2 separate regions of the Homo sapiens genome follow, and region 1 is linked to region 2. The links come from fine-mapping of genetic effects on gene expression. A gene starts in region 2. The other region holds a variant in brackets. All regions are shown on one strand. Distances are from middle to middle.

Region 1 (9,517 bases), 25 kb before region 2:
TTATTAGTATTATCATTTATAATACCTAGTATTTATAATGCTTTGAGACATTGTTTCTAATTATCTTTCTTTTTTTCTGGAATCTTAGAATAAGTACAAGTATATGAGATGATAATATCCTTAATTTTTTAGAAAAAGGTCAATAAGGCAAAAAATGGACTCAAAGTTTCAGATAATTTTCAAAAGGAAGAATTCAGAACAAAGCTGTTTTCTTAATGAACAAAACAATCCAGTTCTTCGGAAACGTTCATTTCCTGAGCGCTCTGGGTAGTCGTGGCTTTGACTGTAGCAAGTCAAGATGAGTGTCTAGGTTGTTGGTTAGGAGCATGGCTTTATTCTCACACTGACCAAGGAGTCAGTCCCAGCTCTCCCACTCTAAGCTGTGTGGCTTTGAATCAGTTACTTCATCTCTCTAATCCTCTGCATTAGGTATTTGATTTTATTTACTTATTTATTTATTTATTTTTTGAGACAGAGTTTCGCTCTTTCACCCATGCTGGAGTGCAGTGGCGGGATCTCGGCTCACTGCAACCTCCGCCTTCCCGTGTCAAGTGATTCTCCTGCCTCAGCCTCCCAAGTAGCTGGGATTACAGGTGCCCACCACTACGCCCAGCTAATTTTTGTATTTTTAGTGGAGACGGGGTTTCACCACGTTGGCCAGGCTGCTCTCGAACTCCTGACCTCGTGATCCACCCGCCTCGGCCTGCCAAAGTGCTGGGATTACAGGCGTGAGCCACCGTGCCCTGCCGCAGTTAGGTATTTTAAATAGACTATCTCAAATCCTTAAAATAATATGATGAGAGTGGTATGATGAGCTGCTTTACAGATAAGGAATTTGAGGTTTAAATGAGATAACTCTGTGAGTAGTTATGGTTTTTAATGATTTAAGAATTTTTAAGTTACCTTAATTCTCAGTCTTCCCCATGTTTTTGGAATTAAATGTTCTTTACTTCTGATTAACTTTTTCTTTGTCCCTTTTCAAGGAGATACTAAGGAGAACACACAAATTGAGATAATTGCACTGATACTGATCTTATATTGTTTTATTTATCTAAAAGTTGCACACTGAATGTGTGCAACCTTCCACCCTTCTTTTTCAGATTGCCTTTCTGGGCCTGACCTCCCATGAGAGAATCAGCCTGCAGAAGCAGAGCAAGCATATGAAACAGACGTTGTCCCTCAGGAAGACACCATACAAGTAAGCGAGACCTGTTTTGGATGCTGAGTCCTGTGGAAGATCCCTAGTCACTGGTTTCCTAAGCTGGTGCCACTACCCATGGCCATGCTGCTGTTCTGTAATTTGCCATCTAGTACAGTTGACCCCCCTTTTCTTAGAGAAGCTTTAGTGATGGGGTGAGTGGTAAAGTCGTGAGCCCCACGGTGGTAAGAATTCGAGAGTTAGTTTACTGGACACAGCACAAATAGTAAGTGACTTTGAAGTTTTGCCAAGGTGGGGAATCTCTCCAGTCAAGCCACATGGTCACAAGGTTGTTTGTTGCTGGCGTGGAGTTGATGTGAGATAATTAAGTGTATGGCTGAGAGAGCCAGCCACAGGGTGCTCTGTAGAGAGCGTTCACTTGTGTGCTTTGCCAGGATTTTCAGCCTGGCTTTCTATCACCACTAATTCTTCTAGCCCTATGTTGAATGTGCCCTCTTGTACCAGGGAGAAGCCAATTTTTCAGATTTGGATTTGTTCCCCCTGGAGCATTTGGTTGTATAAAACACGTTTTCAGTTGAAAATGAGAGTATGTATAGAAAGACCTTCGTCTTACGATATGAAAGATTGGGCTTTGAAGCTTATCTCCCTGCCACTTATGGCAGGGTCTTGGAAACTGGGAGTGCTGCAGAGGTGACCCAGAGCCCTCTGGGGATTTGAATGCTCGCTGCATATCTCATGAGCAGTCTATTTTAAAGCATGCTGTTGGTACAAGATGAAACTGTTAGGCTGTTAGACAAGGGGATCAGAGACTGGGATATAACTACAATGTGTATTTAGGAGAGGAGAGAAATTGACTTAACTGGGAAGAGGTGGCTAAAGCAATGGCGAGTGGAAAGGAGCGTAAACTTGTGATGATTGTTTCACATTGACAGTGATAATAAAATCCCTTTCTTTGTAGCTAAACCAGAGGAATAAATGTTTACTCCACTAAACTATGGAAGCCTGTGATAGAGTTGGAATTTGAAGCTGAGCCTTGAGAGATGTGGGGCAGGGCACAATGGAGTTGGGAGGGAGGAAGGGCATTCCAAGCCCTAGAGAAGAGTCTGAATAGAGGGACACATGAGAGCACTAGAGCACGTTTGCTGAATGATGGCAGCATCAACTAGAGGAACTCAAGGGAAAACCTGAGTCCCGCCCAAACCAAAGATTTTACTTGTTTTCCTCCCCTAAGTTACTTTTACTCAGTACAGTAGTCACCCTTTCTCCATGAGGGATATGTTCTAAGAACCCCAATGGATGCCTGAAACTGCAGATAGTACTGAACTCGGTATATACCATGTTATTTCAGTCTGATAACCCAACAGGCAGGTAGTGTAGACAGAGTGGAAACACCAGACAAAGGGATGATTTATGTCTCAGGCAGACAGAGCTGGATGGCGTGAGATTTCATCATGCTCCGCAGAACGGCATGCAAGTTAAAGCTTACTAATTGTTTATTTCTGGAATTTTTCATTTTAATATTTTTGGGCTGCTGTTGACCACAGGTAACTGAAACTGAAACCAAGGGGAAGGGGACACTACTCTAACTAGCTTTTGAACCAGGCCCTATACATTTCTAGCATGCATCCCCACTGCCAACCCATCAACTCCACATAGCCTTCTTCCCAGGAAGTTGCCCTCTGAGTAGTGTTGGTCCTTTACTGGCAGCAATGCCATCATCCCCATGCAGAACACAATCTTCTAAACAGCAACGCAGTCATCCTCATGGACAGGTGTGTTTTGTTGTGTGTAAGGGATTGGGTTAGGCACTTAAAAGATAGAGCATATGCGTAAAAATGAGCATTTCTCATAACTGGAATAGATAGTGGTACTTCCGAAATTTAATGGAGAAAAAATGATGCCTAAGACAGTGCAGTCAGGAAAGCTCCAGTGGAAATGTGGGTATTGGCCTGGGCCTTGAGAACTGGTAGGACTTGAAAGGATAAGGGGGTTCCTGAGCTAAGTGTAGAGCAGTGTGCGTTCCAGGCCCACGCATCTATGATCATGGGAAAAATAGAGCCAGAGTAGCTGGAGCAGGAGATTTATAAAGATGCACAGAGGAGCTAGAACTAGAGGGATACCTTATATAGAGCCTTGAATACAAAGAGGAGGAATGTTTATTTGAGCCTCTAGGCAGAGGAGTATCTTTAAAGGGTTTTGATTGGGAGGTGAGGGGCTATGACTATATCAGGGTTTTTGGAGGACAACAGTCTGCAATATGCAAGATGAATTAAAAGGAATTGAGACAGAGAATTCATTTAGAGAGTTACTTATAAGGTTTAGGGAGGCCGGGTGCGGTGGCTCATGCCTGTAATCCCAGCACTTTGGGAGGCTGAGGTGGGCGGATCACGAGGTCAGGAGATTGAGACCATCCTGGCTAACACGGTGAAACCCCGTCTCTACTAAAAAAATACAAAAAATTAGCCGGGTGTGGTGGTGGGCGCCTATAGTCCCAGCTACTCAGGAGGCTGAGGCAGGAGAATGGCGTGAACCTGGGAGGTAGAGCTTGCAGTGAGCCGAGATCACGCCACTGCACTCCAGCCTGGGTGACAGAGCGAGACTCCGTCTCAAAAAAAAAAAAAAAAAAAAAAAAAAAAGGTTTAGGGAAAATCCCATCTTGTTGATTACAGTTGTTCTGGCCTATGTGGCCTTTGAGGTAATCAAGGTCTGAATTAGGGAAGTAGGAATAGAAAGAAAGAAACTTATTGATGTCAGTGGCCAGTCCATTAAGTGGGGAATCCAAAATGAAGTGATGATGAAAAACCCAATTAAGTGGCTGAGCGAGCAGAAGCCAGGAAATCTCCAAATATAGATTCAGGTCCAGAAATAGGCTTCAGTTTTAAGGTACCAGAAGCCCAGGAACTATCTGATCTACCCCATCTACCCCTGGATTTCTGCAAGATGTTCAAAGGACATTGCATATTATAGATTCTCCATAAATGTTTGTCAAGCTACACAGGAAATATAGTAAGACATGTTCTCTTTTTTTTTTTCTTG[G/A]CAGTCTTGGATTCATGCAGAACCTGGCAGATTTCTTTCAGTGTGGCTGCTTTGGCTTGGTGAAGCCCTGTGTGGTAGATTGGACATCACAGTACACCATGGTCTTTCACCCAGCCAGGGAGAAGGTTCTTCGCTCAGTATGAAGAAAAGCAACCCAAAACTCTCAATCTGATTTGTTTTTGTTTATGTCGATGCCCTGTAGTTTGAAAGTGAAGTAAAGATTTAGAATTCACCTAAGTCCAAAGGAAAACACGTGGTTTTTAAAGCCATTAGGTAAAAAAAGTTCTCAATAAAGGCATTACAATTTTTTAGGTTTAGAAAGATGGACTTTTCTGATAAATCTTGGCAGACATCTAAAAAAAAAACCATATTTTTCACAAGAAAATGCAAGTTACTTTTTTTGGAAATAATACTCACTGATTATGGATAAAATGGAATATTTTCAGATACTATATTGGCTGTTTCAAAATAGTACTATTCTTTAAACTTGTAATTTTTGCTAAGTTATTTGTCTTTGTTGTATCTATAAATATGTAAAAAATATTTAAATAGATGTACCTGTTTTGCTTTCACACTTAATAAAAAATTTTTTTTTGTAGTTGAGACTTGGTTTCTGACACTTAACACTTCTAGAGTCTTAAATTAAGATGTACATAGGACACAAATTAGTTCACAATTCCAGGAATGAGTTGAGATTATGATTAATACCAGTAAGCAAGATTTAATTTGGTTTTTCATCTTACTTAGAAAATAGAACATAGAAAGTCTTAAATATTAATTACAACTTTACTTAGTACCCTCAAAATATTAGACTGATATGACTGTAATTACTAATTTCCCTTGTTCTACAGGAAATGCTAATTCAACTTTAGTATAGTATTTATACACCCCTGGGCATGGCACCTTCCTGCTGAATAACCTCCCTTGGGTTCCTGTTGCTCTTGGGGTAAAAGCAAAAATTCTCATTGTGACCTACAAAGCCTTGAAGCATATAATCCTGTTTTGTTTAGCAGTGTCAGTGGAGCATGTTGTACTCTAATCATGTGGCCTTTCATTGCAAGGATCCGTTCTCTCTTCTACCAGAGATAAGAGATGCAGATAAGGAAACTAAAGCCAAAGAAGTTTTTATCTTCTCCAGGGTCACAGAGATACCAAATGGGGCTGCCACTGTACAGTCACAGTCACCTAGAATATCACGTGACACATAGTATTTGTTCAAAAAATATTAGAATTTGTTGAACCAATTTCAGGGTTTTAAGCAAGAGATGATGCTATCAGAATTGTGTTTGAAGACTGTGCTTCTCAATTGGAGTACAGAAGAGCTTTTTCAAGGTATATTCTCTTTCTCCCTTCTTCTCTCACCAACTCCTACCAAGTTAGTATTGTGGTCCAAATGGTCCAGAGACATTAGATCAGAGTCACAGGGCCAGGGTGGGTGTCTAGGGCTCACAGTTTAAAATTCAGTTTCTCCATCTCAGACCTTTCAAATCAGTCTCTAGGGAGAGAGTGCTGGAATCCTAATGATTCTTACATATGCATACTACTGTTTGAGAATCATTTACTTAAGGAACCTTACCTTCTCCATTCTATACATTGTGAAAAGTTTAAGCTTGAGAATCACTGCTTAATAGGTATGCAGTTGTAGTGGTAAAGAGACCAGATTCTAGGGACCCTGGGTTTGAATCTATGACCTATTAATTACCACATAAGTTACTTTTAATCCCTTTGGGCAAATGACATAAATCTCTAGAAACTCAGTTTCCTCATTTGGATTATGTAGATAATAATAGTAAACAATTTGAAATGTCATTATGAGAATTAAATGTGTTAATGTTTAAAAGTGCTTAGAATTGTACTTGGCATATAGTAAATGTTCAATAAATGCTGGCTATTAATTGAGAAGTCTAACAGAAAACTGATTACCAGAAAGATAAGCTAGAGGTAGAGAAATGCACCAAATCCAGTCTTCCGTGCTCTGTGTTGTATGTTCTAGGGCTAGAATTCTGCAAGCTACAGTCTCCCTGCCAGATGACTTCCTGTTAAAGTCGGTAGTAGACTGCAAGGAGGAGCAGAAAAGGGACTTATTCCATTCTTCTTGCCCGCTCTTCCTCTCAGTGTTGCTCCAACGATGGCCCTTTGCCCTGCAATGACATTTTGGAACCAATGTCTAACTTTTCTTCTTCCCAAAACCTACTTCATTGTGCCCCATTAGAAGTACTAGCAATAACCAGGCAGGGCTCTCTCCTTTGACATCTGACTTCTGCCCCGGGATACTTCTTCTCTGGGCATCTGAATTATGATAACCCATCTCTTCTCTTAGTTTCCCTATTCCCAGGAGTGATAGCTGCCTCTAGCAATTACTATCTCTATGTTAAATCAGTGTGTTCCCTTGTTACTTTTTCAAAAATAATAGCACCTGTTTAGCTAATTCCCTTTACTATATTCTCTTTATTAAAATAACTAGTGTGGTTTCTGTTTTTCTGGTGAAACTTGACAGATACAGAATATTAGAAATAAGCTGTTAATGATGGTCTAGGCAAGAGGTAATGAAGGCCTGAAGCAAGATGATGACAGTGGCACAGAGGAGACCCAGCAGGCCCAGATCACAGAGTGGATGCGGGGAGAAAAAGAGGAGTCAAAGATGGCTTTGAAATGTTGAACCCAATGAATGAGAGGTTGAAGATGCTACTCTGAGAAATAAGGAACACAGTGTGGGGAGACTAGGTGATGAGTTTGGTGGCTGGGATCTACTGAGTTTGAGATACTTGCAGGCTATCCAGTGGGAAAGTCTAGAAGGCAACTGGAAAGAGGCCAGGGCATGGATGGGAATCATCTGCATAGATGGATAAGATTGTCACAGGGGAGAGGTAGGAAATAGATGAAAATGGAGAGTCACCTTCCTCAAATGGAAAGATGAATGCTAAAAAGATACCAAAGATGACATCTAATGCGAACAAACAGACTAAAAAGTGTGAGAGGAAGGAGAAGGGCAGGAGCAAAAGCTTATGGAATATGGATTTAGGGAGCTGGAGAAGGAAGAAGTAACTAAAAGGAGATCGAGTAGGAGGACAAGAAAGTAGTGTCAGCCAGACACAGTGCCACTCCTGTAATCCTAGCACTTTGGGAGGCCGAGGTGGGCAGATCACCTGAGGTCGGGAGTTTGAGACCAGCCTGACCAACATGGAGAAACCCCATCTCTACTAAAAATACAAAATGAGCTGGGTGTGGTGGCACATTCCCGTAATCCCTGCTACTCGGGAGGCTGAGGCAGGAGAATCGCTTGAACCTGGGAGGTGGAGGTTGCGGTGAGCTGAGATTGTGTCACTGCACTCCAGCCTGGGCAACAAGAGGGAAACTCCACCTCAAAATAATAATAATAATAATAATAATAGTGTCATAGAATCAAGAGAGGATTCATTTCAGAGAGGAAGCAGTCAGTTGGCAGGAACTAAGGAGCAGCTTGAGCAGAAGTTGAGAATAGCTGATGAAAGACAAAAGAGTTTGTGATTAAGAGGTTATTAGTAGGGCCGGGCGCGGTGGGGATTGGCAAATCACTTTAGGCCAGGAGTTCGAGACCAGGCTGGCCAACATGGTGGAAACCCCATCTCTACTAAAAATACAAAAATTAGCCAGGCATGGTGGTACACACCTGTAATCCCAGCTACTCAGGAAGCTGAGGCAAGAGAATCGCTTGAACCCAGGAGGCAGAGGTTGCAGTGAGCTGAGATAGTGCCATTGCACTCTAGCCTGTGCAACAGAGAGAGACTCCATCTCAAAAAAAAAAAAAAAAAGAGGTTATTAGTGGCCTCAGTTATTAGTGGTGGTTGAGGATGGAGAGTAGAGGCAAGGAAGACTAAAGAGTCTAAAAGACTAAGGACTAAGTGGAATCTAGTCTTACAGCTTGGCTCTGAAAGGAGAGAGGAGACGGCAGTAGCTTGTGGCATAATAGCAAGGTTTAGTCTTTGTTTTATTTTAAATCCAAGACAAACCCAATCATGTTTTTCAGGGCCAGGGGAATGTGACTGTTATGCTATTTTGCCATAACTTTATTCCTTTCTTCAAATATGTATATAGCCACATTGGAGACAACAAATTTGAATCTCTTTCACAAATATCAGGCAAAATCTTGATCATGCCCCCTGTGACTTAGGATGGACGCTGGCACCATGAGTGGAATCACTTGGATGTAGCACAGTCTATATTTCAGGTGTGTAGTAGTCATGGGAGCTCATGCAATAATAAATATCCTCCCAATCTCAGTGGCTTCACACAATGTTTCTTTCTCATGTCATGGTCTGTTTAGCTGTTAGCAGGTGTTCTTCCATGCAGTGACTCAAGCTGCTTCCCATCTAGTGGCTCCACCATTCCTAGGGCCTCAGTATCCACTGGACTTCTGCATCCAGACATATGGAAAGAATGGAGACTCTCCTGAAAGGTCATGGAGGCCAGGACTTCATTGGGCAAACTCACTCATGTGTCTCAGTGAACAGCAAGGGAGCCTGGGAAATGTAGTGGAACAGCATACCCAAGAAGTGGAAGGGAAATACAACTATTGCTGAACCACAATAAGCTTCTTCCTTTGTTTTGTTTTTTTCTAAACTCATTCAGTCCACTATGTAATAAACTTTTAGATTCTAGCAGAATTTGCATTTAGCCTGGCCTATACTCTCCCCTATTTCATTCACTCAACAAATGTTTATTAGGTGTCTTCTATGTGTCAAGCACTGTGAATGGCTTGACATGTCACATTCTTACAAGGAGGCAAATAGGAATTCAAAATTTCAATACGATGACATAAGTACTATGCTAATTACATACCGGCTATGGGAGTACAGAGGTAGATTAATTCTGCCCAGGTAGTTCAGGAACAATTTCCAGAGGAGATGGCATTTGACCTGTGACTTGCTTAATAGGAGTTCACCAGGCTAAGAAGTTGGATTAGTGGGTAGAGATGGGGGGAGGTTCCCATCTTCCAGGAATTCTAGGCAGAAGGAACAGCATTAGCAAAGACATGATGGGGTGAGGGTTCTGGGCATGTTTGGAAAGCTCCGAGTCTTTGAGTGTAGCTGGAACTTGTCTGGAAGAGATTGTCTAAAGCTAAGTTGAAGGGGTAAGGCCAAGGCCAATTTGTGAAAGTCTTTATGTGATACACTGTTATGGGCTGAACTGTGTCTCTGCAAAATTTATTTGTTGAAGTCCTAACCCCCAGTACCTCAGAATGTGATGGCTGCATGTGTAGATAAGGGCCTTGAAAAAGGTAATTAAGTTACAGTGAGGTCATTCAGGTGGTCCCTAATCCAATATGACTGGTGTCCTTCCAAG
Region 2 (9,517 bases):
TGGGGCAGTGGGAAAAACACTGGATCAGGTGCCAGAGGCTGGAGTTCTAGTTCCATTTTGCCTCTTCGAAGCTGTGTGATCTGGGAAAACCGTTCAATCTCTCTGAACTTCAGTGTCTTCACTAGAATGAGGGCAATAATCCTTTTGATTTCACTATTGCTGAGAGGACCCTATTAGTTCAAGTACTGTCATATCATTCTGTAAATTGTAGAGTAATATAAAATGTGAGAACCAATTAGGTTCTCCCACAATTTTAAGTTGTTATTCATCAATCTGAATTTTCAAAAGAATAACTAAACTGTGTATTTTGGGCACATTCTTCCTAATCCAACTATTTCTCCCTCCCTCCCTCCCTCCCTCCCTCCCTCCCTCCCTCCCTCCCTCCCTCCCTTCCTTCCTTCCTTCCTTCCTTCCTTCCTTCCTTCCTTCCCTCCTTCTTTCCATCCTTTTTCCTTTCCTTCCCTCCCTTCCTCTCTCCATCTCTTTCTCTCCCTCTTTTCCTCTTTCTTTCTTTCTTTCTTTCTTTCTTTCTTTCTTTCTTTCTTTCTTTCTTTCTTTCTTTCTTTCTTTCTTTCTTCTTTCACTACCAACTATAAAGCTGAGCAATGATGAGTTAGGGCAAAAGTGGTGGGTACATAAAATGAGCACCCAGGAGGGAACTTTAGGCCATGACTTTGGGCAGAGACCTCAAGCCACAGTGCCACAATGCCACCGTTTTCAGCTCAGTGCTAGCTCAGTTGGTCATCCTACTAGATGCCTGATTTCCTGCAGTGAGTTCAATTGTCTACACTGGCTGAAGCAAAGATTTTGGATCATAGGAACATATATATATATATATATGGAATCTAAGCGATAGTAATAGTCATTTCTAACTTTATTATTGAAGTTAACATGCCTGGAGCACTGCCCTTGGGTATCGTTTAATCTTCACAACAACCCTTCAAGGTAGGTGCTATTATAACATTTACTTTACAGATGAGGAAATGGAGGCTTTGGGAAATTACATTAGTCCAAGTTCATGGGACTGATATGTGTCACATGAATAGATTGGAACTTACGTTTCTCTGACTCCAAAGCTTTACATATATTATTTTATGTCAGTTGCTTTACATATATTATTTTTTAATACTTACAACAGCTGCCCAGAGCAAATTTTATTTCCATTTTTATGGATAAGAGAACTGAAGAGCTTAAGTAGCTTTTCCAAGGTCACACAGCTAGTAATTGGAAGAGCTGCCATTTAACCCCCCGTTAAGCTGGTTCTGTATCTCATGCTCCTGTTTATAACACTGGAGAGAGGACAAGGGTCAGCACCTCCATCACCCAGACTTCCCAGTTGATGGGAATTGAGACGTGACCAATCCATTGTCTCTCCATGGGACACAGAGGGTATTCAAGGGTGGGACTAACAGGGAAACTGAATTCATTCACTGAAATCAATGACTTTCTGAGTTACGGCTGTTCAACATGGAAAGGGCTTCCTTGGAACTGGAGATTTCTTCTGCACTATTGATTTTCAGCTGAGGTGGGGACGGATGTCCAAGTGGCTGCTATACAGTGAAGTCCCTTCAAGGGTCCTTTAAGCCCTGAGACAGATTTAAGGATCTGAAAAGTGATTGAAACCTCACTTTGCAGAAAAGCTGCCCAATGGGGTGCCCTCTCAAACCCTCTCCTTTATTCACTCTTAATTTGGGTAAGAAAGATGACATAGCCACAGTGAAAACCATGGGCTTTGGAAGAACCAAGCTTAAGTTCAGAAACACTAACTGTTGAACACTGGGCAAGTTGCTCAAATTCTCTGACCCAGTGTCCTCAATGCATGTCCTCATGTAAAGACAATATGAGAAGGCTTGTCTGGGAAGGTTGTTTTCAGGTTAAAGAAGATAATAATAGCTAAGACACCATATAGAATTACTTAATACATAGCAGGAATTGAATAATTGTAGTTACTTGCATCATGACTATTATTGTTGTTATTACATTATCTCCAGTTTTCAAGTCTGTTCTTTTAGAACAAACAACTCACTCCCTGCTTGTTTTCCATGGCCCTTCTGGTTCAGACTGTGAATCAGCTTTGTTTTTCAGCCTTTGGAGTGTGCGGTGCCCCAGGACAGGTGTGCCCAGGTCGGGGTGAGAGTCGGTCCCCTTGCGTTGTTGGATTGGGTTGGAGGCAGCATGCCTAGCCAGGGGCCCTGTAGTCTGGGGAGCTCATGCCCTTCAGTTCTCGGTGTAGGACATTCAAGGTCAGTGGCTGCTTCCTCCTGAGCTTCTGAACCCAGATATATGACGTCCTCCGGCCAGAGGCCCTTTCACAGAGCCCAGGAAGAACAGGTTGCTCATTGCCAGCATGGAAATAAACCTGAGTGTTGGCTCTCAGCCCCTTTTAAACTCAGACATGGTAGACATACATTAAATGAAGGCTGTAGAACATGGGCATCTTACACCTTTTGTGAAATTATATCTGAAGCGTGGCCAGCTTTTACTTCCCAAAACTCACTCTTTGTTCTATTTTGACCTCTACAATTTATTTCTAAAGACCACATCATATCCCAGTTTACCTCCTGGCTCTGCCGCTTTCTCAGCCATGTGATGCTGGGCAATTCCTAAGCTTTCTAGAACTTTAGTTTCTTCCTCTGAAAAATGAGTTTTGCATAACTTTTTGTGACCCTTAAATAAGCTAGTACTCGTTCCATGCCTGCCTAGGCCATAAACGACCATCAAATCATGATCAACCCTTTCCCACAGTAAAGCTCAGAAAAGGCTCCATCCTCAATGCCCTTTAAGACCATTACTGTCTCCCTTCCTGCCATTCTTCACTGGGATGAATAACTGCAGTTTTTCACATTTGCAGGCATCACATTTCTCTTTGTGCATGAAGCCCAACCCTCTATACAGTATTTATTCACAGATATCTGAACAGCACACTTGTAACTGGAAATCTGTCTGCCTCAAGACTTGTATTTCCTGTGTGTTATATTCCTAGCCCTGGGTCTTTCCTCTTGTAAAACAAATTAATTATCTTCTAACTCCTGGTCAGCTTCTTACCCACTCTGACCTCTGGACTTTTATCAGCACGCTTGTACTTAGCAGGAAACCCCCCCAAAACCCACTGGGTTTGGCTGTATGCCTTTTCTCAACGTTCTCACATATTTGTACGGTTATATTAAACTTTACAAAAGTACTTTCCTATACTTTATCTCATTCAATTCTCACAAGTCCCTTTGATAGAGGTAGGCTACCCTTAGTTTTATTGTTCAGAAAATGGAAACTCAGATAAGTTAAGTGATATTCAGAGCTATAATTTGAACGGGCTCTATAACTGATTATCTTTATTTTCTTCTTGAATATCCCAGGATTTCTGAGTTTCTATTCTATCAAGATTCTGTCTCCACTTCCTCCAAGGGAATTTTGGCTATTTGCTGGCTGAATGCTGCTGCAGCTCCCTCTTCCTTCATTCCTCTCTTCCTCCCTTCCTCCCTCCCTCCTTCTCTCTTTCCTTCCCCCCTTCTCTCCTTCGAAGGAGGAGGCCCCTTGCCCTGTGTCTCCTGTTTCTGATGGATGACACGTGTGTCTGGGCTGCAGAGCACCTGTCTGCCTGAACCCCAGGGAGGACACAAAGCCCTGGGGCTCAGCTACACCTCCTGCCCAATAGCCTGGGCTCATTGCCACTGACCACAAACGACTGAGTTGTTCAGAAAGGGAACAAAGCCAAGTCATAAGACTCCCTCACATTTTCTGGATCATAAAGCAGTTCTACATGCATTGTGATGAATTGTATGTACCCAGCATTGAGATTTAATCCCAGATGTAAACTGAGGACACAGGCCATCCCCAATTTCCCACTCTTCGTGCTGTTCACTTATACCCTTCCCTGCATAGAGCTGCCTCTACCTCCCTCCAGCCCTGACATAGGAGATGGTCCATACATGCTTATTAAATTACATTGAATCGTATTGCAGAGACAAGGTTCCTCAGACCAGTAACTCAACTCCTCCTTCTTGGAGGAGTCACCACCTTGGCTCAGGAACAGGGCAGAAATTAGAGTCGGCAGCTTGGATCTTTCAGCAGCATTTCCACTCAGACCATTGCTTAAAACCTCTTCTTATTCTCAATCACACCTATGTCTGTCATTCACTGGGATATTTTAAAAAGTCCTTGACTAAAACCTAGAGGAAACAGTGGGAATCCTAACCACTGGATAAATTATCCTCCCATTTAATAGAGCTTTTAATATATTTCAACATAGCAATGTCTTTTTGGGGTCCAGTTTTGATTAATTTCAAAAGATTAAAAGCAAACTTGTTGCTGAATATCTTTGGGATACAAAAGTCTATTTAAAATCAACAAGCCCAAAATCTCAGTCATTCACCACGACCTTTTGAATAACACCATTCCAGGTAAATTGAGCATGGGAAAGCTGTCTTATATATTGCATCTAGTACAATCGCTTATCGCTTTGTATCTGTGCAGTACTTTACAGTTTGGAAAAAATGTCGCCAATTTGTATTGATCCTTGCAGAAGAGGAGACCAAGCCCCTGAGGGCAGGAACCTTCTCAAAGTCTGTCATCCATGAATTATATGGTGGTTGTAAGACGAGAAGGTCAGCAGACTTTCCATTATTTCCTCCCGCTTTCCAGTTGTTCCAACTAAGATGACAGGAAATGTAATTCCACCACGTAAGTAGTTTTATAATGAGGATAATTCTTTACTCATTTATCTGCCTATGAGGTCCCTTAAGCCCCCTAAATATTAACCATCCTTGCAGGAATTTTTTAATACCTGCTAGATCCACACCAGAGTCAAGTACAACTTGAGCCTCCTTGCACAGAACCAGAGAGGGTGCTGGCACTTGAGACGTAAAATGTGCTCTTACTCTATGGGACCCTTTATAGTCCAAACCAGCCACAGAACCAACCCACCTCCAGCTCAAATGTCTGCCTTGCTCCACTCACCTGCCTGTGTGGACTCCGTTCAGCTCAACTGAGTCTGAGGGGCTCTTGTCCTCTTTAAATATATGAAGGCTGTCACCAGCCTTGGCCTGCTGGGGGAAGGGCAGGAGGGAGGCCAAGGGAGAGGGTGAATGAGACGTGAGTAACACAACTGCTATCAGGGGCTGAAAATAGACTGTGACCAAAGCCCTGAGTTTTGTCTCCCCCAACCCCCCAGCCAGCTGTGAGCCTCTTGGAGAACCGAATCACTTGGGTTCTATTTGCACTGCCAATTGCTTATGGCACCAAGGGATCAATTTATGAAGTGTGTCATTTCTGATCAAGTGGTTGGAACAGGAACAAGAGCTAAGGGTTTAACATCAAAAATCATTTCTCCAGGCCCCCACCCCACTGACCTTCCTGGAAATCATTGCAGGGTACCTGCAAATGAGTCATGTGCCATATCTGGGAGCCTCTGGAACTTAGAGCCACAGGTCACCACACTCGTGAAGAGAACTCAGAGCTAAAAATAAGGGTGATGGGTGTCTGAAACGATACTTAGATAATCTCTTCAAAGAAGCTTGGGAGAAAAAAGGTTGGCACATCACTTGGGACCTGTCACTCCATCTATCCTAGGAAACGAAGTTTTCTCTAAAAAGTTTTGATTTACTTTGTTATTATCCTTTTCTATTTAAGAATTTGATACAGCAGTGCATATTTATCATCATCACATTATATTTATAACATCTTGATATGTCTCTGTAGACCCATATTTTCTTTGGAGGTCTAATTTTTCTTTGTCTGGAATTCACACCGTTTAAATTTGATCAAGCACCAGGGACTGATATAAATTATGGCATTGAAAAGCTGACAAGAGGTTCAGAGATGTGAAGACCAATTCTTCATGTTATAGATGAGGAAACTGAGGCACCAAGCCCCTTCCACTCATGTTGACCCGGATGTTGAGGTAAGGTACATGTAGAACCCAACCGGGAGGTTCATGATCCAGCCTTCACATCAGATATTAGCCCTTTGGTTACCTGCCCACAAAGCAATTGTTGAAGGATAGAATATTTCACTGTCAAGAAGGTTGCAGTAATTTCACAAAGACGGCCGTGGCATAGCCTCCTATGAGATATCCGTGGTCTGTGTTTTCACTAAATGGCATCTTCATCATAAAGACGAGGCAATCACGAGGATTTTAGAAAGTTAAAGCTAGAAAGGACTTTAGAAATCGTCTAGGATAGTGGCTTTTGTTTGTTTGTTTGTTTGTTTGTTTAGAGAAATGGTCCCGTTCTGTTGCCTAAGCTGGAGTACAGTGGCATGATCACAGCTCACTGCAGCCTCGATCTTTTGGGCTCAAGCAATCCTCCTGTCTCAGCCTCCTGAGTAGCTGGGACTATAGGCGCACACCAGCACGCCTGGCTAATTTTTTTGTAGGGATGTGGTTTCACCATTTTGCCTAGGCTGGTCTCAAACTTTGGGGTCAAGTGATCTGCCCACCTCGGCCTCTCAATGTGCTGAGATTACAGGCTTGAGTCACTGAAACTGGTCAACCAATAGTAGCTTTAAAATTTTTTTTGTGTGTGTGTTTGCATCAGAATACTTTTTTCTGTAGATAAGAGGAAAATCAGTATATAAAGCAGATAAAAGAGGAGCTTCCAGTGATGATGAGCATTTTTTCATGTGTCTTTTGGCTGCATAAATGTCTTCTTTTGAGAAGTGTCTGTTCCTATCCTTCGCCCACTTGTTGATGGGGTTGTCTGTTTTTTTTTCTTGTAAATTTGTTTGAGTTCATTGTAGATTCTGGATATTAGCCCTTTGTCAGATGAGTAGATTGCAAAAATTTTCTCCCATTTTTGTAGGTTGCCTGTTCACTCTGATGGTAGTTTCTTTTGCTGTGCAGAAGCTCTTTAGTTTAATTAGATCCCATTTGTCAATTTTGGTTTTGTTGCCATTGCTTTTGGTGTTTTAGACATGAAGTCCTTGCCCATGCCTATGTCCTGAATGGTATTGCCTAGGTTTTCTTCTAGGGTTTTTATGGTTTTAGGTCTGAGAAATGCAAATCAAAACCACGATGAGATACCATCTCACACCAGTTAGAATGGCGATCATTAAAAAGTCAGGAAACAGTTGCTGGAGAGGATGTGGAGAAATAGGAACACTTTTACACTGTTGGTGGGACTGTAAACTAGTTCAACCATTGTGGAAGTCAGTGTGGTGATTCCTCAGGGATCTAGAACTAGAAATACCATTTGACCCAGCCATCCCATTACTGGGTATATACCCAAAGGATTATAAATCATGCTGCTATAAAGACACATGCACACTTATGTTTACTGTGGCACTATTCACAATAGCAAAGACTTGGAACCAACCCAAATGCCCAACAATGATAGACTGGATTAAGAAAATGTGGCACATATACACCATGGAATACTATGCAGCCATAAAAAATGATGAGTTCATGTCCTTTATAGGGACATGGATGAAGCTGGAAACCATCATTCTCAGCAAACTATCACAAGGACAAAAAACCAAACACCGCATGTTCTCACTCATAGGTGGGAATTGAACAATGACAACACATGGACAAGGAAGTGGAACTCACACACCGGGGCCTGTTGTGGGGTGGGGGGGGGGGGGTAGGGATAGCATTAGGAGATATACCTAATGCTAAATGACGAGTTAATGGGTGCAGCACACCAACATGGCACATGCATACATATGTAGCTAACCTGCACATTGTGCACATGTGCCCTAAAACTTAAAGCATAATAAATAAATAAATAAATAAATAAATAAATAAATAAAGAGGAGCTTCCATGCATAAGTTGGAGTTGAACAATGAGAACACATGGACACAGAGAGGGGAACAACACACCCCAGGGCCTGCTGTGGGGTGGGGGATGGGTGAGGAGAGGGAACTTAGAGGATGGATCAATAGGTGCAGAAACCACCGTGGCACACGTATGCCTATGTAACAAACCTGCACACTCTGCACATGTATCCCGTTTTATTTTTTTAGGAGAACAAAGGAAAAAATAAAGTTATAATTAAGCATTAAAAAATAAAAGGAGCTTCCTTGCTTGAAATGAATGCTGCACTTTGACCGTCACGTCTTGCCCTCTTTGCACATTCTGAACTTGCCTTTACACACCTCCCCACAACATGATGTGTAGTTTCAGTTTTGGATTGTAATTAGTTTTGTTCATTATGGGTTAGTACTTACTTAAACCTAATGATAAATTTTAGTGCTTTCTTCACTCAATTACTGTTTTGTTATTGTTGTTGTTTGTTTTTTGAGATGGAGTTTTGCTCTTGTCACCCAGGCTGGAGTGCAGTGGCGCAGTCTCAGCTCACTGCAACCTCTGCCTCCTGGGTTCAAGTGATTCTCCTGCCTCAGCCTCCCAAGTAGCTGGGGTTACAGGTGCCCACCACCATGCCTGGCTAATTTTTGTATTTTTAGTAGAAACGGGGTTTCACCGTGTTGGCCAGGCTGATGTCGAACTCCTGACCTCAGGTGATCCAACCAACTCAGCCTCCCAATTACTGTTCTTTATTTACTTTTTGTACCTTACATTTTTAATTCTGTGTGTGTGCATGTGTGTGTGTGTGTGTGTGTGTGTGTGTGTGTGAGGTAAATCATTCTCGATGAATTCATTGAGAGAGTCTGCTGTAAACTTACTGAATTATCACATAATGTAACAAATGCCATAGACAGGCTGGTTTAAACAACAGAAACTTATTTTTGCACAATTCCAGCAACTGGAAGTTCAAGACCAACGTGCTGGCAGGGTTGGTTTCTTCTGAATGTAGATGGCTGTTTTCTCTCTGTATCTGCACACGGTCTTCCTTGTGTATCTGGGTCCTAATTTCCTCTTCTTACAAGGACAGCAGTCATATTGGATTAGGAGCCACCCATATGATTTCATTTTAACTTAATTACCTCTTTAAGAACCCTATCTCTAAATACAGTCCCGTTCTGAGCTACTGGGAGTTAGGACTTCAACATACGAATTTTGGAGGGACACTATCCCGCCCCTCATAGTCTTCATTTTGCTTTCACTTGAATGCTAGTTTGGTTAAATTTAGGAATCTCTATCCAAAATAATTTTCAGTCAGACCTTTGAAAACTGTCTTCAATTATTTTTAGTAACGTACATGACAGTTTGGTGCCAGTCATATTCATGTTCCTTTATTGACTTGTCTTGTTTCCTCTAGAAACTTTCAGGATCTTCTCTTGAATTTTATGACAATTTCCTGTGTTACGGCCTTTTAAATTTTATTTTGCTTGAAATTTAGTGGATGAGTTCAACTTGAAAACTCACTTTTTTTCCTTTAGGAAATTTCCTTTTATTATTTCTCTCATTAATCCCTCCCTATATGTAATGTTTCCTCTTGCTGAAACTCTCATTAGAAGTTAGAATTTCTTTGTCCTTTTATGTTTATTAAGGGAGAATTCCTTAGCTCAATCTTACATGGAACTAATTTGCATTTCCTCCATGTACATTCTGCTCAGCTCATCTACTGATTTTAAAATAATTACATTTATAATTTTTAAGATACCTAATTTTTTCATATAGCC

Direction of the effects. Positions count from the first base shown, and alleles are read on the strand shown. Sizes are in standard deviations (SD) of each study's normalised expression.
As copies of A replace G in region 1, the expression in prefrontal cortex of the gene that starts at base 4,983 in region 2 goes down (small effect, 0.34 SD a copy in CommonMind).

Evidence for each region. PIP is the estimated chance that this variant, and not a neighbour inherited with it, causes the effect.
Region 1: its variant is fine-mapped to the expression of CSRP3 in prefrontal cortex (CommonMind, PIP 0.95).

The regions. Positions count from the first base shown.
Region 1 is chr11:19,171,623-19,181,139 of GRCh38, forward strand. ZDHHC13 (zDHHC palmitoyltransferase 13) reads left to right here. Exons shown (of 17, transcript NM_019028.3): 16 at 1,101-1,198; 17 at 4,200-4,793. The coding sequence ends at 4,338. Among named protein-coding and RNA genes, the nearest start is that of CSRP3-AS1, 20 kb to the right of the region's middle. RefSeq lists an enhancer at 915-3,367. The variant G/A (reference allele first, on the strand shown) is at 4,196.
Region 2 is chr11:19,197,001-19,206,517 of GRCh38, forward strand. CSRP3 (cysteine and glycine rich protein 3) reads right to left here and starts at 4,983. Exons shown (of 6, transcript NM_003476.5): 1 at 4,954-4,983. All of the region lies in intron 1 of CSRP3-AS1 (CSRP3 and E2F8 antisense RNA 1), which reads left to right. RefSeq lists an enhancer at 9,385-9,517.